Homo sapiens: one gene and its partners. The protein of the gene in region 5 interacts with the protein of the main gene of each other region in a pairwise test. Each region holds a gene or a part of one and is shown on either strand. Other genes may lie near its edges. The genes, in order: SH3GLB2, QPRT, KCTD5, POLR1B, GIT2, RUSC2 and SAFB2.

What was found.
Region 1: the proteins of GIT2 (region 5) and SH3GLB2 interact in a two-hybrid assay, tested with the Homo sapiens proteins (one large-scale study listed by BioGRID and IntAct).
Region 2: the proteins of GIT2 (region 5) and QPRT interact in a two-hybrid assay, tested with the Homo sapiens proteins (one large-scale study listed by BioGRID and IntAct).
Region 3: the proteins of GIT2 (region 5) and KCTD5 interact in a two-hybrid assay, tested with the Homo sapiens proteins (one large-scale study listed by BioGRID and IntAct).
Region 4: the proteins of GIT2 (region 5) and POLR1B interact in a two-hybrid assay, tested with the Homo sapiens proteins (one large-scale study listed by BioGRID and IntAct).
Region 6: the proteins of GIT2 (region 5) and RUSC2 interact in a two-hybrid assay, tested with the Homo sapiens proteins (one large-scale study listed by BioGRID and IntAct).
Region 7: the proteins of GIT2 (region 5) and SAFB2 interact in a two-hybrid assay, tested with the Homo sapiens proteins (one large-scale study listed by BioGRID and IntAct).

What each region holds. Positions count from the first base shown.
Region 1 is NC_000009.12:129,021,832-129,025,331, forward strand, and holds part of SH3GLB2 (endophilin-B2), read right to left. Parts: intron 593-3,500; coding exon 451-592; intron 1-450.
Region 2 is NC_000016.10:29,682,180-29,685,679, forward strand, and holds part of QPRT (nicotinate-nucleotide pyrophosphorylase [carboxylating]), read left to right. Parts: intron 1-3,500. UniProt on the Homo sapiens protein: Involved in the catabolism of quinolinic acid (QA).
Region 3 is NC_000016.10:2,689,023-2,692,522, forward strand, and holds part of KCTD5 (BTB/POZ domain-containing protein KCTD5), read left to right. Parts: intron 1-3,500. UniProt on the Homo sapiens protein: Its interaction with CUL3 suggests that it may act as a substrate adapter in some E3 ligase complex. Does not affect the function of Kv channel Kv2.1/KCNB1, Kv1.2/KCNA2, Kv4.2/KCND2 and Kv3.4/KCNC4.
Region 4 is NC_000002.12:112,548,965-112,552,464, reverse strand, and holds part of POLR1B (DNA-directed RNA polymerase I subunit RPA2), read right to left. Parts: intron 3,199-3,500; coding exon 3,066-3,198; intron 1,600-3,065; coding exon 1,463-1,599; intron 691-1,462; coding exon 467-690; intron 1-466. UniProt on the Homo sapiens protein: Catalytic core component of RNA polymerase I (Pol I), a DNA-dependent RNA polymerase which synthesizes ribosomal RNA precursors using the four ribonucleoside triphosphates as substrates.
Region 5 is NC_000012.12:109,947,869-109,951,368, reverse strand, and holds part of GIT2 (ARF GTPase-activating protein GIT2), read left to right. Parts: intron 1-52; coding exon 53-202; intron 203-2,522; coding exon of another isoform or gene 2,523-2,546; exon of another isoform or gene 2,547-3,500. UniProt on the Homo sapiens protein: GTPase-activating protein for ADP ribosylation factor family members, including ARF1.
Region 6 is NC_000009.12:35,542,111-35,545,610, reverse strand, and holds part of RUSC2 (AP-4 complex accessory subunit RUSC2), read right to left. Parts: intron 1-3,500. UniProt on the Homo sapiens protein: Associates with the adapter-like complex 4 (AP-4) and may therefore play a role in vesicular trafficking of proteins at the trans-Golgi network.
Region 7 is NC_000019.10:5,591,777-5,595,276, forward strand, and holds part of SAFB2 (scaffold attachment factor B2), read right to left. Parts: intron 2,403-3,500; coding exon 2,115-2,402; intron 1,112-2,114; coding exon 971-1,111; intron 18-970; coding exon 1-17. UniProt on the Homo sapiens protein: Binds to scaffold/matrix attachment region (S/MAR) DNA. Can function as an estrogen receptor corepressor and can also inhibit cell proliferation.

The DNA of each region.
Region 1 (3,500 bases), on a different chromosome or scaffold from region 5:
GCCTGTAGTCCCAGCTATTCAGGAGGCTGAGGCAGGAGAATCGCTTGAACCCAGGAGGCAAGGGTTGCAGTGAGCCAAGATTGCACCATTGCACTCCAGAATGGGTGACAGAGCAAGACTCCACCTCAAAAAAAAAAAAAAAAAAACCAACAGAGTGACCAACCAGGTGTGTGTTTTGCCTGCCTCTTCTCCCACGTGTGTTTTAGCTTCCAGGCATTTTAACTCTTCTGTGCAAAACTCAGTGTTTCCACTGCCCTGGAGTGTCTGGCAGCCCAACACAGAGTCCCCCATTTTCTTTTAACTGTCCCTCTTCAACAGCCTTGAGCCCAAGAGTCTAGCTGAAACCCCGGCTGCAGCCCCGCCCCACCTATGCCACAACAGGGCCAGGCCTCCTACTGTATCCCTGCCCCACGACTACATCCCTCCCCGGGCCCACGAACACGCACTCACTGGGGTTGGGCTGCAGCAGCACCTCTGTCTGCCTCAAGATCTTCTCTGTCCAGTTCTTGGTGCTGTCTGCCCGGGCCAGAAGGTTTTCAAAGTGGGCATCAAGCTCAGTCTTCTCAGCCTGGCCAAATTTCTCCTCCGTGAACTACGCAGAGGGGAAGGCCAAGGGGTGGGGAGGGGGAGAGCTCAGAAGGAGGTGGGGGAGTGGTGGGGAAAGGGAGGACTGCCCCTCCCCACCAGCAGGAACCCAGGCAGGCCCCAGGGTCAAGGAACCAGCCCTGAGTGTGATACTGTGTGACCTGGCAGGGCCTCACTGTTTTCCCCTTTGTGAAATGAGGTGGCTGGGCCAGAGTGTGGGAATCACAGCTTCTTTTGGAAATCCAATGAAAGCTACACTCTCTCCCCACAAAAATGCACCTTCATATACAATCTGGCACACAGCTTAGTGCGGTGAGGAACCCTGGGGAGGCCAGCCCTAGGGTCCTTTGAGTCTGACTCTGAAGGAGAGGACTTGGTAGAAAGTACTCGGGACAAACAGGGCAGGGAGTAGGGTCTGGGGTTATCAGGGGGCTCCATGGGCAGCTGGGAGCTGCTAGGGAGAGGGTGCCAGAGGAGGGAGAGGAAGAACCCAGGGTCGGGGTTCAGAAGGACCTGATTCAAGTCTTAGTTCTGCCACTGTCAAGATGTGTGACTTTGGGCAAGGGGCTCTGCCTCTCTGAGCATTGGTTTCCTGAGCTGAAAAAAGGGAATAATAGCACCTCCCCCATAGGTTATGAGGATGAAAGAGGAAAGATGTGGGTTAGACATAAAGGCTGGGTCGGCTACAGTGCTGCTGCCCCACGTAAGGCACCGGTGCTATGAGCTGATGGGTGCAGAGACGTCTGGGAAGGAAGGGGAATGCAGGGAGGGAGGATGGCCAAACGGTTGGCTTTGGCCACCTGGTAGGGTAGATGGAAACACTGCCAGCCTATCAGAGCCAGCGGCTGGGCACACCCAGGGCCCGGATGTCGCATGGGTCCCCATCAAAGCTGGCAGAAGCCGTGGGGGCTACCTAGGAACAACCAGAAACTGGTCCAAGTCCTGGCCCCTCTGATCTAAGAGGGCCCTGGAACACATGTCCCCATTTTCCAAACGGGGACACCAAGGCCTTCTCTAGCTAAGAGAAAGGGCTTGCCCAAGGTCACAGCCAGGGTGAAGACCTGCAGGAGTAAGATAAGGAACAACAAACACTGTTGGCCAGCCCTGTCCTAAGGGTTTCCTCATGACCTCATCAACCTCTAATGCAAGGAGGGCTGTTTCCCATTTCACAGATGCTGCCACTGAGGCTGAGCAAGGGGCAGGGCCACGCAGGAGTCGGTCAGCCATGAATCATCCCTGGCTGCAGTTGGCTCCAGCTGCGGTGGGGGGTGGCGGGCTGGGCGGCCACCAGGAGCTCAGCAGCCATCAATTATGTAGCAGAGCTTGGGTTTCTCCCTGCAGGGCTGGGAGGGCCCAGCTGCCAGGGGTATGGCCTCAGCTCCTGCCTGGGGCCAGCTGCTCCTGGCCTCCCTCCCCCACCCTGGCTGGCTCTGCCTCCTCTTCCTCGTCACACTCCCCAAAATGAGACCTTCCAGAGCAGAGGCTCAGATTTCCTCGTGGCTCTATTACCTCACCCAGTCCTTTGAGGGGGGTGGCGTTCACCCCATTTCCCAAATGAGGAAACCAAGGCTCGAAGAGGCAAAGTCTCCCTTCTGGACCTGAGAGCCCCTGCCTGGAGAATGCAGATAACAGGATCTAGTTCATTGGCTATTTGGCCAGCACACAGTATGGGGCTGATACATGTTAGCTAGTATTATTATCACCATCATTAATGAAAAGCCTTGGCTAGGTGCAGTGGCTCATGCCTATAATCCCAGCACTTTGGAAGGCCGATGTGGGCAGATGGATTGAGCCCAGGAGTTCAAGACCAGCCTGGGCAACCGTGAGACCTCCTCTCTACAAAAAAAAAAAAAAAAAAAAAAAAGCCCGGCACGGTGGCTTATGCCTATAATCCCAGCACTTTGGGAGGCCAAGGCAGGCGGATCACGAGGTCAGGAGATCGAGACCATCCTGGCTAGCAAGGTGAAACCCCTTCTCTACTAAAAATACAAAAAATTAGCCGGGTGTGGTGGCGGGCACGTGTAGACCCAGTAACTCGGGAGGCTGAGGCAGGAGAATGGCATGAACCTGGGAGGCGGAGCTTGCAATGAGCATCGCCCCACTGCACTCCAGCCTGGGCCACAGAGTGCGACTCAGTCTCAAAAAAAAAAAAAAAAATTAGCTGGGCGTGGTGGCACCCACCTGTAGTCCCAGCTACTCAAGGGGCTGAGGTGGGAGCCCAGGAGGCGGAGGTTGCAATGAGCCAATATCATGTCACTGCACTCCAGCCTGGGTGACAGACCAAGAACCTGCCTTAAAAAAAGAAAGACTTTGGGAGGCCGAGGTGGGCGGATCACGAGGTCAGGAGATCAAGACCATCCTGGCTAACACGGTGAAACCCCATCTCTACTAAAAATACAAAAAATTAGCCAAGCGTGGTGGCAGGCGCCTGTAATCCCAGCTACTCGGGAGGCTGAGCCAGGAGAATGGCATCAACCTGGGAGGTGGAGCTTGCAGTGAGCCGAGATCACGCCACTGCACTCCAGCCTGGGTGACAGAGCGAGACTCCATCTCAAAAAAAAAAAAAGACAGCAAGGAAGCCAGGCATGGTGGCTCACGCCTGTAATCCCAGCACTTTGGGAGGCCAAGGCAGGTGAATCACGTGAGGTCAGGAGTTCGAGACCAGCCTGGCTAACATAGTAAAACCCCATCTCTACTAAAAATACAAGAATTAGCATGACGTGGTGGTGGGCGCCTGTAATCCCACCTACTCGGGAGGCTGAGGCAGGAGAATTGCTTGAACCGGGGAGGCGGAGGCTGCAGTGAGCTGAGACTGCGCCAGCCTGCGTGACAGAGTGACTCCGTCTCAAAAAAAAAAAAAAAAAGGCCAGGCATGGTGGCTCATACCTGTAATATCAGCACTTTGGGAGGCCGAG
Region 2 (3,500 bases), on a different chromosome or scaffold from region 5:
CCACCACACCTGGCTAATTAAAATAAATTTTTTTTTTTTTTAGAGATGGGTTCTTGCTGTGTTGCCCAGGCTGGTCTCAAACTCCCAGCCTCAAGCGATCCTCCAACCTCAGCCTCCCAAAAGTGTTGGGATTACAGGCATGAGCCACCGTGCCTGGCTCAAATCTTTTCATATGTGAACATCTCAGCATGTTTTCTTTCTTTCTTTTTTGAGATGGAGTTTCGCTCTTGTTGCCCAGACTGGAGTATAATGGCGTGATCTTGGCTCACTGCAACCTCTGCCTCCCAGGTTCAAGTGATTCTCCTGCCTCACTCTCCCAAGTAGCTGGGGATACAGGTGCCCACCACCATGCCCAGCTAATTTTTTTGCATTTTTTTTTTTAGTAGAGATGGGTTTTGCCGTGCTGGCCAGGCTGGTCTTGAACTCCTCACCTCAGGTGATCCACCCACCTTGGCCTCCCAAAGTGCTGGGATTACAGGCGCAAGTCACTGCGCCCAGCCTCATCATGTTTTTTTCTTAAAAGATAAAGACTTTTCTTTTTACTACAACCACAATACTATTGTCAAAACTAAACTTTAAAAATTTCCTTGGTGTTATCAAACATTCAATGTCCAGATTCCAGTGGTTTCATAAATAGCCTAATTTGCTTTTAGTTTGTTTGAATTAGGATCTAAGTAAAATCTACACTTTGTGATTGGTTAGTATGTTTTAAGAGTCTTTGAAACTTTATTTTTTTGATTAAAAAATGTTTAATTTAGAGATAGGGGTCTCACTATATTGCACAGGCTGGTCTCAAATGCCCCAAAGTGCTGGGATTACAGGTATGAGCCACCACACCTGACTGATTCTTTTTTTTTTTTTTTGAGATGGAATCTCACTCTGTTGCCCAGGCTGGAGTGCAGTGGCGCAACCTCGGCTCACTGCAACCTCCGCCTCCCAGATTCAAGCGATTCTCTCACCCCAGTCTCCCGAGTAGCTGGGATTACAGGCGTGCACCACCACACATGGATAAATTTTGTATTTTTTTAGTAGAGACAGCGCTTCACCATGTTGTCCAGGCTGGTCTCGAACTCCTGACCTAAGGTGATCTTAGGCCCACCTTGGCCTCCCAAAGTGCTGGGATTACAGGTGTGACCACCACGCCCAGCCAATATGTGGTCTTATGAGAGCATTGGTTCTTTTTTTTTTTTCCCTGAGGCAGGGTCTCACCCTGTTGCCTAGGCCAGAGTGCAGTAGCTCCATCATAGCTCACTGCAGCCTCCAACTCCTGGACTCAAGGGATCCTCCCACTTCAGCCTTCTGAATAGCTAGGACTACAGGCGTGTGTCACCATGCCCAGCTAATTTTTAAAATTGTTTTTGTAGAGATGGGTTCTCACTATGCTGCCCAGGCTGGTCTCAAACTCCTGGCCTCAAGCGATCCTTCTGCCTCGGCCTCCCAAAGTGTTGGGATTACAGGCATGAGCCACCGCCCCTGGCCGAGCATTGATTCTTGATCCTCATGTGCATCTGAGTCACAGAGCAGGGTGGGGGCTGGCTCTTCCCCAACCTGGATCCCTGGAAACTACCCCCAGAGATTCTGGTTCACTGGGTTGGAATGGGCCTGAGCATCTGAAAGTTTGAAAAGCTCCCTGTGATTCTGGTGTGCAGCCCAGGCAGAGGCCCCACTGTGTCCACTTCTCTTGAAAGGAGTGGTTCACACCAACACCCCCACTTCCCTACCTCCCGTGCGCTCCTCGAGCATGACAATGTGGCTTCTGCCCCCGACACATGGCACAAAAACCGCTCTGGCACAGGCCTCACAGTTGCTAAGTGCAGAGCCCCATCCTCAGTCTTCCTTCTATTTACTTCTGCTCACCTCCCAAAACCCTCTTCTCCTTCCCAGGTACCCACTCCTGATGATGCTTCTCTTTTTGTTGGACATGCCCTGTGGGTTCTTTATCTTATTATTTTATTTTAGAGACCGTGGCTTGCTCTGTCACCCAGGCTGGAGTGCAGTGGTGCAATCACAGGTCACTGCAGCCTCCAACTCCTGGACTCAAGCCGCAGCCTCCCGAGTAGCTGGCGAGTAGCTGGGACTACAGGCGTGCACCCCCATGCCCAGCTAACTTTTTCTTTTTTTCTTTTGTTTTTTGAGACGGAGTTTTGCTCTTGTTGCCCAGGCTGGAGAGCAATGGCACTATCTCGGCTTACTGCAACCTCTGCCTCCCAGGTTCAAGCGATTCTCCTGCCTCAGCCTCCTGAGTAGCTGGGATCACAGGCGCCCACCACCACGCCTGGCTAATTTTTGTATTTTTAGTAGAGACGGGGTTTTGCTATGTTGGCCCCGGAGTTCAATTTTTGTATTTTTAGTAGAGACGGGGTTTCACCGTTTTCACCAGGATGGTCTTGATCTCCTGACCTCGTGATCCTCCCGCCTCGGCCTCCCAAAGCGCTGGGATTACAGGCGTGAGCCACCGCGCCTGGCCACGGCAGCATCTCTTCTGAACTCCAGAGCCATTCCCTACCACCCTCTGGGCACCACCATCCACATCTCCTGCTGCCGCCTCAGCCTTAACCTCTGCAAAACCAAATCCGTTCTTTCTCTCGAGCTCTGCAGAAGCTAAGCTGTTTCACCAGGCCACGATTCAGGAAACGCTTTGGGATTCAGCTTCTGTTCTTGTGAAATGGGAAGAATCCCTGTGGTGAGCTCCAGATGAGAGCACAAAGGGGAACAGGGGTGCCCGCGGCTGGCACGCCATGGCTGGCACGCCATGGCACTCAGTGGGGTCACCGCCCCCTCCTGCTGTCCCACCTCCACCCTGCCTGCTCTTCTCCTGGAATGACTCCTTCTGCCAGCTCTCAGCTACCCAGGCCAGAGGCCCAAGGCTCCCACATCTCTTTAGCTACTAATTCTGGTAGATCCCCTTTTGGAAATAGCCCTCAAATCTACCCCAGAGCTACTGTCAAAGTTCAGGGCTCCATCTCTTTTGGTTTTTTTGAAAATATTTTTTCAAATTAATTATTTGTTGGCCGGGCGCAGTGGCTCACACCTGTAATCCCAGCACTTTGGAAGGCCGAGGCAGGTGGATCACCTGAGGTCAAGAGTTCAAGAACCAGCCTGACCAACATGGTGAAACCCCATCTCTACAAAAATACAAAAATTAGCCAGGGATGATGCTGCATGCCTGTAATCCCAGCTACTCGGGAGGCTGAGGCGGGAGAACCACTTGAACCCGGGAGGCAGAGGTTGCAGTGAGTTGAGATCACACCATTGCACTCCAGCCCAGGCGACAGTGAGACTCCGTCTCAAACAAAAAAAAATTATTTGTGGAGGCAGGGTCCCACTATGTTGCCCAGGCCTCAAGTGGCCCTCCTGCCTTGGCCTCCCATAGCACTGGGATTACAGGTGACAGCCACCGCGCCCAGCCTACTTTTTGTCTGGCCAAGACTACCTCAGCCTTCTTTTGCCTCCCAATCTGTCTCCAGTTGGTGGCTGAAGTGACCCTTCTGGAGCAAAAC
Region 3 (3,500 bases), on a different chromosome or scaffold from region 5:
ACTAAGCTTTGAGTCATGTGTGGGGCAGGGACCTCCCAAATTCCAGTTTCTATGCTGGGTGAGGCCGAGAAGCAATGGAAGGGAAGGGTGGTGGGGAGGCAGCAGGCCTGGCGACCAGGGCACAGGGGCCCCACCCTGCTCTCCGAATCTGGCTGCCTTGGACAAGCCTCCTTGGTCTCTGGCCTCAGTTTCCCCATTAGTAATTGGTGACATCAAAGTCCTCTTGTGGGCCAAAGATATGCCACAGCTGCATAAAACAAAACAGAAGAGAGAGTAGAGGTGAAGGTTTTGTGTGCGAAATTGAAACAGAGTCACTTGAAATGGATAATTTCAGAGTAAAAACTAAGTATTTCTAATTAGGTTGATTGCAGATGTTGGTGCACAGGAAATTCTATGCCTTCGCGTCTAGATTTCTGTGGGGCAATTTGACAGAGTTTATCTCCTGGATTGGCTCAGGGCACTGCACCCTCTTGATTTCGTTCCCCTCTGGTGGCACGTGTCTCCGAGCACCGGGAATGACTGAGAGCCGCAGGGCCGACCCTCTTTGCAGAGCTCTGGGAGCTGCGGGAGGGTTGGGCAGCAGCAGGGTTATGTTGGGTTCAGAATCTGGCGTGAGAGCCTGGCAGTCTCCACCCTCATTCCTCACTGCCGTTTTCTTTTCTTTTTTTTTTTTTGAGACAGAGGCTCACTGGATCGCCCAGGCTGGAGTGTAATGCACAATTTTGGCTCACTGCAACGGGGCTGTCAGGTTCAAGTGATTGTCCTGCCTCAGCCTCCCTAGTAGCTGGGATTAGAGGCACCCTCCACCATGCCTGGCTAATTTGTGTATTTTTAGTAGAGACAGGGTTTCACCATGTTGGTCAGGCTGGTGTTGAACTCCTCACCTCAGGTAATCCGCCTGCCTTGGCCTCCCAAAGTGCTGGGATCACAGGCGTAAGCCACTGTGCCCAGCCCTTCACTGCCATTTTCAAGGCTGCTGGTTGCATTAGGGACCTGTCCCTGAGAGGCTGGGGAACCCCCACGTTGCCCCCGGTGCTTTGCTGGGTGACAGCATGGATGGCGGAGAGCTGCAGCCGGAGTCTGGTGAGATGAGCAGAGCGGCCAGTCTTGTTACCACACTTCTCTGAGTGTTGCTCTCCTGACCAGACGTCCATCTGCGGCTGCCCTGTGGACCTGGGGAGTGGGCGAGCAGTCAGCTCTGTCTGCGGAGTCTTCCTCCGTCTGCCAGGGCTGTGTGTGCCCTGGCTCGGCGCTGTCTGCCATGTGCTCCCGTGGCCAGGGTCGCCCTCTCCTCTGTGGTTTGGCAACTGTCCTGCCCGGCCTACGTCCTGTGGCTCCGGCTGAAGCCTGGGACCTCTGGAGATGGGTGGCTCAGCCCAGCCTGCTGGGCCCACTCAATGCCAGCTTGGGCCCGGCCACAAGTAGGTCAGATGCCAATTCAGTGAGACGCGGGGAAGATGAGGGAAATGACTTGTCAATAAAACAGTCTTAATTATGGCTGTTTTAGAAAAAAACCACCACGAACCTTCCTGAGATCAAGCGCAGCCTGTGCTGGTTGTGTAAGCCGTGGAACGTATGAGAAAGCCAGGAAGAAGAGCACCCCCACGCCCAGCCCGCAGCATCTCACTGGCTTCCTGGCCGCCTCTCCTCATCCCAGTCGTAGAGGCGTGAGCGGGCCGGGGCATCTTTCCTTCCTCGTGTCATGGGGGCTTGGGCAGGCGCCGCTGATGGCCTTACGGGCAGCACAGGGGCCCTGCCTAGGTTGGCCCAGACGCTGTTCTAAACCTCCCCGAGGTGACCTTGCTGCCTTTGTCTCCATGAGCCTCGGAGTATATCCTGAATTTTGTATGATTTTGTGTTTCCCATTTTCCCATGTTCCATATTTTTTTGTTGTTTCTGCATCAGGGTGGAGGCTGATCCACATCCCCAACACCAGCAGTGAGCTGCCGAGGCCCTCGCGCCTGGGCTGGGCACTGTCTGGGCCTGGGCTGGCACCACGAGTAGCCCCCGCACACATTAGGCCGATCTGGAACATGTGGGCTCACCCGAGCTGGGAGCACCAAGACCCTGCCTACATGCTTGGAAGCGAGTCAGGCCACAGCGAGACCCGAACCCTGGTGGGATTTGGGGGTCCTGGTTTAAGACCCTGGCACTTCCTATGGATGTGGAAATCTCTCATTGAAAGCTTCAAAGAGAGCAGTGGTGAGAGCAGCACCTCCACACGCCACTGCCTCCCCGCCCTGGTGCGGATGTCCCTGACCTTCCGCTCTGCCCAGACAGGGCCTGTTTCTCGAGGAAACCCACCAGTTAGAAGGAACCCATGGGAAGAAACGGCCGGAGAGCTGTGAGGCCAGCCACAGAAGAGCCAGTTTTGGAATTTCCCACCAAGGGTTCAGCCTACTGCTCGCCCTTCAGCCTCTGGTGCCCGGCGGCTCAGCTGGGTTCTAGGGCCACGCAGGGCTCTGCAGTGTCACTCCGGGAGAGGGCTGTGGGGGCAGCTGCAGGCCCGGCGCGCCGAGTCCACGCAGCCTGGGTAGGTCCTGCATGGGCCCAGAGGTCGTGGGGCTCAGAGAATTGAACCACGTGGGAGGAGTGTACTGTGGCGGGGGCCCCATAGGAAGCCCACTGTCCTGGAGGCACTGGGGCGGCGGGGGTGTGGAGCGGCTGGCAGGTTCTTGGTAGACGCAGCTGGGGTTCTCTGCTCCTCTGCCCTGCAGCCTTGGCTCCCAGCGAGGTTGGCAACAAGCATCTGGACTCCTGGAAGTCTTCCAGAGGCTGCTCCTTTCAAGTCTCTTCCTAACTGGATGCACGTGGGGTCCCCCGCGGTGCCTCAGCCTCCCCTGCCTTTGATGGCTGGGTATTTTGCACCCAGGCTGCTGGCCCCTGAGCACAGGGATGGGCTGGAGCCACAGGCTGCAGGGAAAGCGCATCAGGAAGGTTCCTGGGGCGTGCGGTTCCCACACAGGTGCGTCCGGGGGCTTCCTGGTCCCTCTGTCAGGAGCCTGAGCTCCAGGGACTGAGACGAGCTGGGCAGAGCCTAGCCACTGTGGCCAGAGCTCTCACTGCCAGCAGGATCTCTCTTCAGGCACCCTGGAAAGGTGCCATGGCTCCGGCTGGTAAACTTGGCCTTGCAAAGCTCCACGTCCCTGTGTCTGGATGTGCCCAGCCCTGCTGATACGGTGTCTTTAGGGTGTCGCTTTTCTGGCCAGAAACGTCTCTGGCCGGCAGCACCTTTGTCCAAGTTCCTGTTCTGCGTCCAGGAAGAATGAGGTAGCAGACAAGTGGAGGGTGAGCATGACGAAGAGAAGCTTTACCAAGTGTTGGGACAGTGCAGAGGAGACTGTGGGGGCAGCTCCTCTCTGTAGGCAGGTCGGCTCATTCAGTTGGCAGCTCTCAGCAGAGAAGCGGCCCCGGACTGGCTGGCTCCTCTCCATTGACTTCCCAGCTCTCAGCAGAGAGGGTAGCTTCCCTCTGCAGCTGGTCTTCCACTTGCCAATTGT
Region 4 (3,500 bases), on a different chromosome or scaffold from region 5:
ACTGGACAGCACCAGTATGGAGCTGGCTTCTTTAGTAATTATACAGTGGTTATATAAGACAAAGTCCTTGCTTTGGAGAAATAAAGTGATACAATCCCTGCAACTTTCAGGGATTGTACAGAAAGAAAAATGTACATCTGTGTACACAGAAAGTAAAAAAGTAAATGTAAATGAATGAAATGTTCACAATTAGAATCCAATGTACTATTTGGACATTATTCTGGAAGTCTGAAATTATTTCAAAATAAAAGTTAAAAAGTACTATAAAATAAAACACGACTACTAAAAAAATACAAGTGAGGAGGGCCGCAAAAACAAAGGTAGCCCCCGGCTAGCAAGGACCAGGATTCTACCCCAAGATTCATTCTCATTCCCAAATGACTCGCCCGCCCAAACTGCAACCAATACAAAGAACCACTGACAGCCCTCCGCCCCTCCAAAAACAGTTTAGACAAAGCACACATACTTAAACAGGAACTCCGCAGCTTGCTCATTTGGGTACCAGTCAGGAACATTGAGTTTTACTCTGAAGCATTCACCTAGGTAGTTAAGGACCTGTTTTTGTGTCGAACAACCCTCTTCCATTACAATCCTTAACATCTGAGAAACAGAGTTCCTAAGGAAAGAATCATCCTCTTTTCCTTTGATGAGCTCCTGAAAGATCTGATAATCAGAAAAGCTGACAAGTGCCTAGAATAGAAAATAAAAGGTTTAATTGCTCACTAATAACTAAAATACTTTATCTATTCACTAATAATTATCTTCTCTCATTTTTTTAATACCCAAGGAAAATTAGCACTCTGCTATTGCTGAATCAAAGTAAACTCTCTAAAATAAAGCATTCTTTGTATGATAGCCAGACAGCACAATTGCCTCCAGGGTCCTCATCTCCTGGTGTTCACAAACGTGTAGTTTCCTCCCATGCCGAATCAAGGCTGGCCTGCTTGACCAAGAGAATGTGGTGAAAAAGATAATGGGAGACTCCCAGGGCTAGATCACAAAGGGCACTGCAGCTTTTTCCTTCTGCATCTTCTGCTCTCTGTTCTCTCAGCTAACTATATGGAGGAAGACAGTTGCCTCAAGCAGCCTACAGAAAGGGCCATGTAGAGAGCAACCCCATGAGGAGACCTCCTGCCACCAACCAGCAGATTTGCCAGCCATGTGAGTGAGCCACCTTGGAAGTCCTGAAAATGACTGCAGTCCTGTCTGACATCTCCATGCAACCTCCTGAGACCCTGGGCCACAAGTGCCCAGCCAAAGCACTCCCAAACTCCCGACCCGCAGAAACTGTGAGACAGAAATGTTATTGAGTTTTAAGCTATTGAATTTTGACGTAATTTGTTTTGGAGCAGTAGACAACTAGTACAGTATTATTTTAACAAGGAGAATCCATCCAATGTGCACAGGATACTACCCCCAGTGAATTTCTTCATAACAAAAGAATGCATTCATTAAGTCATACCTTAAGTGCAAATCCCAAAGGAAGAAAGAACAGTTCTTTTCGGTAAATAAAGTTCAACATAACAGTGCCATTTTCCAAGTAGTGGAGGTTCATATTGACAGCGGAATGTTCTTCCCTCACACAGTGCATTGAAACTCCTATTGAACCAAACAACAAAAAAATCAGAAACTCATTGATATCTTAATTGCTTCAACCATTTTCTTTCTGAACAATCTTAACCTCTTAGACACAATTAAAGCCAAATCACTAAGTTTAGCCAAGACTGGCAATCAAAAATGTTTCTAAACCTCAGCAAATGTCCTCTTGCATGCAAAATCTACCCAGATTGAGAAACACTAATGTAAAATAACCGAAACTATGAATTTAAGCAAACTTCAAAGTTTCCCTCCAGGACAGAGTCCACATCTTTTAGCACTTTATATCTGCCTTAAACTGTGGAGTCTGGTCAAGACATGGTGCTTGATCTAATAGTTCCAATGGAGAAAAGTAGAATTTTAGATTTTATTTCAGTTTCAGGCAAAGACTGCTAAGACATACTACCATCAACTGATGCAAAAGAAAATCACTAGACATTCAGGCATGCTGTTTTTCTAGGTATAGTATGTATGGCTATAATTAAGGTCTGATTTTTAGCTCAACTATCAGGACAAATTGTTTAACTGTCAGGGTTGCTCAAGAATACAACATGCTGTCTTAGGCATTGTCAAAGAGAATGTTCCAACAGAGGCCAGGTGGCTGTCAGACAGAGACCCTGAGGGGTGTACCACAGTGGCCTGAACCAGAAGACATCCAAGGCCCACATTCACCTATGGCCAAGCCAGACTAGCTTCCATCTTCATAAGTAGTAACAAAAATACACATGCTCTTTCAGTTTGCAAAAGTGCAGCAGCCTGAACCAGAAGACAGCCAAGACCCACACCCACTTATGGCCAAGCCAGACTAGCTTTCATCTTCATAAGTAGTAACAAAAATACACATGCTCTTTCAGTTAGCAAAAGTGAATTTTAAAATGCTTATGATTGATAAAAATCATATATATTCAAGGTGTACAATACCTTGAATATACATATACATATATTATAATGATTTCCACAATCAAACTGATGAAAACATCAATCACCATAGTTATCATTTGTAGTACGTGTGCACGCGTGTGTGGTTGAGACACTTAAAATGTACTCATCAATTTTAAGCAGTACAGTATTACTATCATCACCAGGCTGTACATCAGATCCCCAGAACTTATTCATCTTGTAACTGCAAGTCTGTATCCTCTGACTAACATCTCTCCATTTCTTCTTCCATCCCAATTATGAAAACTTAACACAAGAATGCTCAATAGAAAAACAACAAAAAACAAAAGAAAGACCAGACACGGTGGCTCATGCATGTAATCTCAGCACTTTGGGAGGCTGAGGCAGAAGGACTGCTTGAGCCCAAGAGTTCGAGATCAGCCTGGGCAACGTGGTGAAACCCCATCCCTACCAAAAAAAAAAAAAAAAAGAAACAAAAATATCAAAGACCATTTGGATGCATCTACTTCAAAAAAAAAAAAAGTTTTAAATTTTCCTTAAAAAATATTCTAATAATCTCCAGAACTTACCATACTGAGTATAACCAGGCCCTCTGGTTTTCCATTTTGGTCTTATCATTGCAATGGGAAAATTTCTCCGAGGCATAATCAACATTCGGATGACTTTTTCAATGCCATTGATTATAAAATAGCCCCCCATTTCCTGCCAAAAAGATGAATTGCAACTTGTTAAACAAAGATACATGACTAACTGTAAACATGAACCTCACTCCTAGCCAAAGGTAGTACAACACACAGAATAGGAACACAGAGGTGAAATGTACTACTGATCCCTTGAAAACAGTACACAGACACTGTCTTTGTGTGAATTAACAGTTTTCTCAAGTATATTACAAAGGTCCTAGGGACATGGGAAAAAAGTATGGAAGAAAAACAGGGTACTTCTCTTTATCAGACAGGCTCAACCTATCTTGCCTTTCTGTCCCCTAAAATGACTTCAGTCTT
Region 5 (3,500 bases):
TTTAATGTTCTCGTCATCTCAGATTGTGAACGTTTTCCCAATTTATTTTTAGAGCCTAGATTCAGATTTATCAGATGGACCAGTCACTGTACAGGAATTTATGGAGGTCAAAAACGCTCTAGTGGCTTCTGAGGCCAAGATACAGCAGCTAATGAAGGTGAATAACAACTTGAGTGACGAGCTGAGAATTATGCAGAAAAAGGTAACATGTTAATAAATGCCAGGACGGTTGACGCTTTAATCCCATAGTACAAGGAAGAATCTCAGGCACTGTGATGTGGTCCGAGGAAAGAAAAACAGTTATTGTAACAGCCTTAGAAATCTTTGGGCCAAGTTGTCTTTTTGAAGCAGGATGTATTTGGATATTTAAAATGAAATATATCCAGAGTAAGTTCCCCAGGTAGGAGAAACCTAACATCTATTTAAGCATTTGTGCCCATTAGAATAACCCTTGGACTATTCTGTGCTTCCTGGAAACCTGGATGGGGCTCCATGGATGTGATTCTTCCCATTGCTAGGGAAGGATGATCACACCATGGAGACAGAGCCAATGAGAGCCCTGGGCAGGGGCATGTTTATCAGCATTCAAACCCTGCTCCCACCCTGGCAGCCCTATCCCACATCCCCACCTTATTGCTCACCAGTTTTTACTACTAACTTGTATTATCCCCAGAGCCTACAGGAGGGCCTGCCACAGAGTAGGTGCTCAAAAAATAAGAAAAAACATTTCATTTGTACTAGGAAGAGCTGCACACTGGTAAAAAACAATCTCATTTGCTCAGCATTTTCTCATTCATTACCTTTTGAGAGAATCAGAACCGTGTGAATATATTAATCCCTAAAAGGAGTGTGGTTGATGGTAGCAAGGAATACCCTTAGTAGGAGGGGGATTGTGTATGCAACTCCTTATGAGATGGCTAAATAAGGGAATTCGAAAAATTGCAAATTTTGCCCATGACTTTGTGGGTATCACTCATCATTCAGCTCTAAAATGAGATTTGGACACTTTACTTAACCAGAAACAAAATGAAATATATAATCTATGTCTTTAGGCTGTCATTTGAGAAGTAAGGTTTTCAAATCATTTTCAAGACCTGAGGACGTGGCACACTCCATGTGTGCCTGGACTCTTTTCAGTGCTGCTTCCTAAAGGAAGGTGGAAGAACTAAAAAGGGGCCCATGCCCCTCTGTTTACTAGGGAAGGAAATTGCTGTGCACTTTTGCCTGGGGTTTGGTCTAGGATTCTTTTGATGTTGACTTCTAGAGCATTTTTGAGACTTTTTGAAATAAATGGCTCTAATGCCTATAGTAGCAGGGAATGAAGAATGCTTAAGATCAGCTAGCCTTAAACGAACAGACACTTGTTCTGTGTCTCCCAGCCCTGTCTAGGGCTGCCGTGCAGCTGTAAACGAGACAGACCGAGAGCCCCTTTGTCATAACATACAGGACCTGTATTTTCTTTGCCTTCTTTGGAATATATTTTATTTAGTGGATTATAGTTTGTTCCATTAATTGGACTAATAATTTTGACCAGGTGACTATTTCTGAAACATGCTGATTTTGCCACTGTAAATCAATCTGCTGCACATCACCTTTTAAAATCTAACAATGCTTCTTTTAGTATTTTTGGAAATCACCAGAGAGAGCCTCATTATCTCTGAAAGCAAATGTCTTGAGCTTCTTTGAGAAATGCAAAGTGAAATTATTTGCTTTTGCTTATTGATTATCTCATCAATTCTTAGAAGTGCTTTTGATTTCTGAAACTATTGAATTGTCTATAACTTTTTATTTTCCCTTATACTCCTTCCAAATAAAAAAGTGTAGCCTGGTTCTTATTAAGATAAACGTCATTAAAATTTATGTGAAGACATCTCTCTAAATACAGAGTACTAACATTTTTAAAAATTGAAACCAAGAACTTGTGCTCATGAGAACACATTCAGACAAAATCCAGGCATGAAAAGTGTTAGGATAAAGTTTCAGATTTCAAGGCCTTAACTAAATAACTGCCACAGAGGCTTTTTATACAGACAAACACGTGATCACATGCACCAGTGCCCCATTGAGGGACCTGTGTCAGTTACACACCTCAGTCCTTGAACCTTGACCATTTCACTCTAGGCCCTGGGTTCTCTAATGAATAGTTTCAACAGGCACTTCATGCCTGTCTGTATCCTGGAATGTAGAAATGTTCAGGGCTGCTTTGTCAGCTGCTTTGCAGCTGTTCTTTCCCTGGAAAGGGAATTGCAGATATGAGCTATACCCTGCCAGCCTTTGTGATATAAAAGCATTCTATCATTCTGTAATGGCTTGCTCTTCAGAGAAACAGAATGAGTGGTCTTTTTGTGGAAGAGGCAGTAAGTCACACTTTCACAGCAGTTTGGCATGATTAATATAAAGTATATGGAATTTGTTTATTTAGCAAAGATGTATTGATTATATTTCAAAGTTGGGTAAAGTTTTTAATATACATAAAGTTGACAAAGTAGCATGATTTGTATCTGATCTTTCACATTTAACAGTTGCTTGGAAAAGATGCTAATTAATGAAGAGGAGCAACTACTATTGGTGTATTTTTCACAGATTGGTGCTTTCTAAATAAAAATTGAAAGTAACTCCTAACATTGAATGGGTTTGCTACTGAAAAAGTAATGATCTTCTGGTGCAAACAGTTGCTTGTGGACTTAAACCTTGGCACTGGTGGGGAATTTGGTCAGATTTTACAATCTCTGTCAAAGAGTAGACAGCTGAACTCACACCACACCCAGCTTATAGAATGTCCATGGAAGATGAAGGCGCACCAGAAGGGAAGGACCCTGCGCAGAATGGACGTGGTGAATGGTGTTTAAAATGCCAGATGCCAAAGAGTAACACGATTCCCTGCTGACCCCTTAACTCTAATCCATCCAGCACCATGGAGCAGCCTGCATGTGAGGAATGGAAGGAGCATTCAGGGCCTCCAAGTGACAGTCTCTAAAATGGGGTGGTGCCAGGCAGATTAGCATGTTCAAAGCTGACACCACTGAGGTCGTGTTTTTTGGGTGACAAAGCCAAAGGAGAGAAAGGCCAAATATTCCAGCCCTGGCCGAAAGATGATCACTCACCAGACGGAAGCAAGCGTGCTGCGTGGAGCATCCATGCGAAGATGTCAATTCCATAGATCAATAGGTTTCCAGTTTTCTTCGTGATATGTTAATATAGCAAACTTACCATGATCCGGTTTTCTCTTTTTTCTTTTTTTTTTTACAAAGTGCTGAATTGTTTGGAATATCAAGAGTATTATGTAATAAAAACTTGTTGATCATAATTTTTCTTGTTGGCTTTTTGGAAAGCAATAGGCGATCTGATTTTTCACAAGCTGAACTTCTGTCTTTCTTGCTTTGCAAAGCAACCCTAGTCATCTTTGTGCTGCTTCCATGGTGTCTGCTGTCATTTTTGGCCTTTACAAATTGCTCAGGGCTCATTTGAAAAGCAAGTTACCTAAATGATGTTTTAATGAT
Region 6 (3,500 bases), on a different chromosome or scaffold from region 5:
GACATCCTGAAGTGCCCAAATGCTGCCCAGTTTTAGCTTAGAACCTTCACTACTGGGATCCACTAGAAAGTCTTCTCTTCCCAGTTTTACCTCTTATAGGCTAAAGCAAAGTTCTCTCTTGTTCAAGGTCTCCTGGTGCCAAGGACACAGAACCCATCCTGAGCTTCTCTGGTCTCTTGGCTGCACCGTGGCAGTGTGGCCTGCTCAAGTTCTAGTCTCCTGTGTTTCCACGTTCAGGTCGCAACAGTCTTCATTCCCTTCGACTCCTCACATGTAATGTTCCAAAATTCATTCATTTCCTTTCTCTTTTTATTCCTATCATTTCCTTTTCACTCACCCTGAGTCTAAATCCCTCATTGCCTTTCTCTTATTCATCATTTAACTGAATCCTTGACACAATCAATTTCTTAAAATTTAACTCATGTAGACCATAGGGTCATAGCTCGTCATGTGGAATGTGGTAAAGTCTGAGGCAAGTCACATATGCTCAAGGACATGAACAAACAATGCATAAAAAATATGGCTAATAAGTATACGTATAAGGGACAAGGTATTAAAATATAATTGTGTTAAATTTAAGCAGCAATTATTTACAATCTTGCTTCCTCCTCCCCTTTCTGAGAGGAAGGCAGGCTCCTCTGTTGAACTTCCAAGCCTTTGTGTGTTTAATGGGCTAATGGGTAGAGATGTAGAAGGGCAGATATTAAGAGAGTCTGAGCTACAAGATTAAGGGTTACAGAAGAAAACATAGGAGTAAATCTTTGTTATCTTGGATTAGGTGATGGTTTCTTAGATATGACACCAAAGGCACAAGTGACAAAAGAAAAAACATAAATTGGACTCCATAAGAACCAAAAACTTTTGTGCTTCAAAGGATACCACCAAGAAAGTGAAAAGACAATCCATAAAATGGGAGAAAATATTTGCAAATCATATACCTGATAAAAGACTTCTAATCAGAATATATAAAGAACTCTTACAACTCAACAATAAAAAGACATACGAGGCTGGGCACAGTGGCTCACGCCCGTAATCCTAACACTTTGGGAGGCCGAGGTGGGAGAATCATGAGGTCAGGAGACAGAGACCATCCTGGCCGACATGGTGAAATCCCATCTCTACTAAAAATATAAAAATTAGCTGGGCGTGGTAGTGCATGCCTGTAATCCCAGCTACTTGGGAGGCTGAGGCAGGAGAATCGCTTGAACTAGAGAGTCAGAGGTTGCAGTGAGCTGAGATCATGCCACAGCACTCCAGCCTGGTGACAGAGTGAGACTCTGTCTCAAAAAAAAAAAAAAAAAAAGACATATGATCCAGTTTAAGACAGGGCAAACAGTATGAATAGGCATTTCTCTGAAGAAGACATACAAGTGTCTAACCAGCACATGAAAAGATGTTCAACATCATTAGTCATTAGAGTAATAAAAATCACAATGAGATACTACTTCACTCCAGCTGGGAGGGATAAAATAAGAAATACAGACAATAACAACTAGCAAATGTTGATGATGATATGAAGAAACTGGAACCCTGAAACATTGCCGGGAGTATTGTAAAATGGTGCAGCTACTTTGGAAAAGTCTGACAGTTTATCAAAATGTTAAACATAGTGTCATCACATGACCCAGCAACTGCACTCCTGGGTATATACCCAAGAAAAATGAAAACATATGTTCACACTAAAGCTTGTACACAAATGTTCATAACAGCATTATTCACAGTAGCCAAAAAATTGGGCACAATCGAAGCCAGTCACAAAGGGCTTTTGTGATGTTGTATGATTCCATTTATATGAAATGTCCAGAATAGGCAAATCCATAGAAATAGAATGTCCTGAAATCAGGCCAGGCGTGGTGGCTCATGCCTGTAATCCCAGCACTTTGGGAGGCTGAGGCGGGCGGATCATTTGAGGTCAAGAGTTCAAGACCAGCCTGGCCAACATGGTGAAGCCCTGTCTCTACTAAAAATACAAAAATTAGCCAGGTGTTTGTCACCATTTTTGTAAATAAACATGTCTGTATGCATAGAAGAAAATCTGTAACATGCAACAAACTGTTACCAGTGCCTATCACTGTTGAATGATTTGGATTATTTTTAATTTTATTCTTTTTGCTTCAGCTGTATTTTCTAATTTGTATGTAATAAATACCCATTTTATGCATAATTTAAGCAATTTTTTTCTTTTTTTTGAGACAGGTTCTCACTCTATCACCGAGGCTGGAGTGCAGTGGTGCGATCATGGCTCACTGCAGCCTCAGCCTCTTGGACTCAAGTGATCCACCTCAGCCTCCTGAGTAGCTAGGACCACAGGTGTGTGCCACCACGCCTGGCTAATTTCTGTATTTTTTGTAGAGACATGGTTTCTCCATGTTGCCAAGGCTGGTCTTGAACTCTTGGGCTCAAGTTATCCACCTGCCTTGGCCTTCCAAAGTGCTAGGATTACAGATGTGAGCCACCATGCCGGGCCTAAACAATTTTTTTTCTTTGAGGGGGTTTCTCCTTTCATACATAACTACGTTTCCCCTGGAGTCCTGGCCATAATCCCGAGTCTGGACTAAAAGGAGCATAGAGAACTTTCTTACATAGATAGCAGTAATTTTAGGGGTACCTATGGGTTGCAGCCATCACTGACCTTCAATGAGTACCTTTTCTTCCTTTTTAAAGCATTTTCAAGAGGCATTCACAAGTATCACATAAAAGAATGTATGATTCTGCCACAAAACCATTACCAGGACATACATGCATTAATATGGAAAAACTGATGTACAGATACAGAATGCAGAAAGCTGACTCTCTAAATCAGAGATGAAGAACACATGAGCGTGGGAGATGACGGAGCCCTTGGCTGGAGGGCACTGACAATTGTATTGTAATGTGATGTTGACATATCTATCTCCCAGACTGGAGCACAGTTCTGAGGTTGGAGACTGCAATACAGTGAACTCTGTGCTTGGAACACAGTAGGTGCCTGGTTATTTGTTGACTACTTTTCCCATTAAAATAACCTGAGTTGTTAGTCTTTTTATGATTGAATTATAGGAGTTTTAACATTTATTCTGGATACAAGTCCTCTGTCAGATATATGCCTCATGAATATTTTCTCTCAGCCTGTGGCTTGTCCCTGTTTTCTTAACTGTGTTTTTTGATAAATAGTTTTTAATTTATTAAATTTAAATTGATCAATTGATCAACTGATCATAGAGTTTGTTTCTCTATGGTTAAATCTTTCTGTATCCTAAGAAATCTTTACCTGTCCTAAGACCATAAAGAAATGTACCTATGTTTTCTTCTAAAAGCTGTATAGTTGTAGCTTTTACATTTAGGTTGTATTGAATCCTACTTTAACTGTCAAGCTCTTTCACTGATTGATTTCATTTTATTTTATGCTTTTGTATCTCAGAGAAGATCTTATTCCTTTCTGATCTCCACACAACCAAGAGAAAGGCCGAGCAATGGCTCCTCCATAGACGATTCCAATTCAGCCATCTAAGGGGAAGTTC
Region 7 (3,500 bases), on a different chromosome or scaffold from region 5:
GCCTCGAACCCTCCCGCCTGCAAAAGGAAAAGATCCCGTTCAAACAGCACCAGGCACGACTACACATTTCTGCAGGTCAGGCAAGTTTCGCGACTGGGATACTTTTTCCATCCCATCACATAAAAACTATAACTGGCCTGGGAAAAAAGGAAAAAGCTAGCTCAAATCGAAAGGCTTTTCCCCGGGGGCAGAAACGAAGTTGGATCCTAAAGAGGTAGGAATAAAGATCTCACTGAACTAAAATTCCTCGGGGAGCTCTCAGTTAGGGGAACAGGGACAAACAGAGGCCTCCAATGATCCCTCATCTTTGGTCTGACCCAATGCGTGGGACTCATCAAAATTCACACCAACTCCACCCCAAACTCCAGCAGAATTAAGAGTGTGGCCTCTCAGCCTCCCTTTCCTGTTCTCCCCGCTCTGACATTCCGACTGAAGGAGCCAATGAATGGGGAAATGGGTCAGAGATGTGCAGCCGAGGGGAGCCCAAAGACAGGATTCTTACACTGGAAAACCAAGGGCTGCCTTTTTAATAAACTAGATGTATTCCTCATTTTAAAAGGCTAAAAAACCCACCCAGACCCTCGAAATACAAAACAGGCCTCATGAGAAATTTTGCACGTCCTCCATCAATTCTCTGGTAGCTCTTGGGCACAACCAGGTTGTGCTGACAAACACTGCTGCCTCACAAGAGAGCTCAGTGTAGATGGCCTGCACTCAGGCCCCTCCTGGCCCACCTATGAAAAGAGTCGGTGGATGGAATGAGCTCTGAGATGCCTTCCTCTGAGGTAAGCTGGGGATTCCAGCAACTCGCTCAAGTTCTGTGCAAGGCCAGAGTCATCCACTGTGGATCTCAGAAGTAAACGAGGCTTCAGAGCACACAGGAACCCCTGCACTGGGCTGAGAACGAGGTCAGCTGGATGCCCCGGTGCCCACAATGACTGTAGCTAAAGGAGGGGACAAGACCACTGACCTGTCGATGGCGTGGTCCTGGTACTGGCCCCGGTCTCGATGATCGAAGTCGTGAAAGCGGTGGTCTGGCCGGGGAAAGTCTGCACGATATCGGTCCTCCATTGCCACACGCTTTCCTTCTGGCCAATAGGCATCATCTCGTCTGTTGGTTTTTATTTTAAAAGAATACAAATTCCATTAATGAGAGAGGAGGAGGAAAAAAGGAGGAGGTGGAGGTGGGGAGGGGAGCTCTCTCCCCAGACCCAGTATCGTTTAAAATGTCCTGCAGGGCTAATCTCTAAACATTCGATCATCATTGCTTTGATCTGATAAATTAAAACCGCCATTAACAGCCGAGAGGCACACTTGTGTTCTCATCCAACAGTCCCAAAAGGAGCACTGCTGTGAGCTCATTGTCTCGTGAGGCTGTTATTACCTTGATCCCCCCTCATGAGCAACTGAAAAGAAATATTTGATTCTTCTGGAATAGCATTCGAGTTGCCACACTTTTACTTTCCCTGCCTTCCACGGGAGCCTGAATCTCCCTCTGAGTTTCTTGCAAAAGCAAAGAGAATTAGATGGGGTGATAGTGAACTACACACAGCTCTGGACGGCATCCAATTATCTTCTTCCTGATTTTTACCAGAAAACTAGGCTCACGGAGAGCGGGGTGAAGGGTGACTGTCAATTAAGCCGCCTGGGGTAGCTAGAGACCAATAAACCTACTTTCTAAATCAGAGGCAATTTCCTTTTCCACAGCGCCTGCTCTGCCTCTCTGTCTACAAGGACACATGAGACCGGCAGAGTCAGCGGTGGCCAACTTGGGCCTAACGGGCGTTCGGTTGTCTCGCAAGACAGAGAACAGCTATGCTCCACGGGTAAGTGGAGAGGAAAAGCATCACAAACCCTTCAGCAAGTGGCAGCCATCAAGTTTCCCAGAATAACTCAAGTTCAGGAAGATGCTACACAGCCTCCGGTGAGGACAGCGAACTAATAAACCTGCAGCAGCGCAGTGAGATCGGCGGGGGGTCCCCAAGGCGCATGCTCCATATCAAATTTCATTCTCCCCACCGACAGGGACGGAAGGGAAGCCGCTGTTCTGCTGGAAGGGTGAACACCGCTGCCACGCTGGTCTCCGTCCTGCCCACGCTCTGGGCGGGACTCACCGGTCCAGGTCGTAGGGCCTCCGCCCGGGCCGCCGCTCCTGCTCGTAACGCAGCTGCTCCTGCTGGCGCCGCAGCTCCTCGCGCTCGCGGTGGATGCGCTCCTGCTCCTTCCTGCGCTCACGCTCCACGCGCATGCGCTCGCGCTCCAGCCGCTCCCGCTCCATGCGCTCCCGCTCCAGCCGCTGGCGCTGGCACTCGAGCTGCAGGCGTTCCCGCTGTAGCCGGGCCTTCTCCTTCCGCTCATGGAAGGCCTCGAGGCGTTGCTCCCGCTCCCGCTGCTCGCGCTCCCTGCGGGGACAGGTGAGGCTGCCCTGAACTCCCTGCGTGAGCCTCCAAGGAGAAAGCCCGGTGCCCAAAACTGGGTGTGTATTGGAAGCAGAAAAAAAAAATGGATCCAAAAGCTCACCGGGCTTCCCTAAAGCTGCGCGTGCAGGGGGTTACCTTACTTAACAAAGCTACCTTAAGAAAAGCAAAGGCAGCACAGCTGGCAACATTTCTAGGTTTGCTCGAGAACATTTTCCAAATGCTGTGAGCACAGCTTTTGCTTTACTGAGCAATATTTGAGGAAAAGTGACAAGAGAACGCCGGGCATCCCGACATGAAAAGGCCGAATGTCAAGGCAGAGGGACAAGCCTCCTTCAAGACCACAGCCCAGAAGGGAGCCGCGGCAAAATGACAACTGGACTCTGCTTGCAGTTTCTGACCTTAGGTGAAAGGTTTCAACAGGGAAGACAGGCCTCAGCACCCAGGCACCATCCCATCCCATCAAAGCCACACACGGCTGGGCCTTCCACACGGGCCAAGGTCCAACATCAGAGGAGGGGCGAAAATAGACTTTGAGCCAGCAGAAGGCTCAGCCTGTAATCCAGCACTTAGGGAGGCTGACGCAGGAGGATCGCTTGGGCCCAGCAGTTATCAGCCTGGCAACATAGCCAAACCCCATATACTGTAAAGGGCTTTGATGACTTCTTTTTAAGAGACAGGGTCTCACTCTGTCACCCAGTCTGCAGTGCACTGTTGTGATCACAGCTCACTGCAGCCTTGAGCTTCTGGGCTCCAGCAATCCTCCCACCTCAACCTCCTGAGTAGCTGGGACTACAAGTGCACGCCACCATGCCCAGCTAATTTTTAAATATTTTGTAGAGGTGGGGTCTCGCTACATTGCCTAGGATGGTCTTGAACTCCTGGCTTCAGGGGATCCTCTGGCCCTGGCATCCCAAAGTGCTCGGATTACAGGTGTGAGCCACTGCACCTGGCCCTTTGATGACTTTCATGCCACCTGGCATGTCTGGCGGCTCACGTGTGAACAGGTGCTGGCCCCTGCCTCGAGGACCCAGGTTAAGCACGACACCCGCCAGCCCAGGCACTGGCTCTCGGGCACACAGA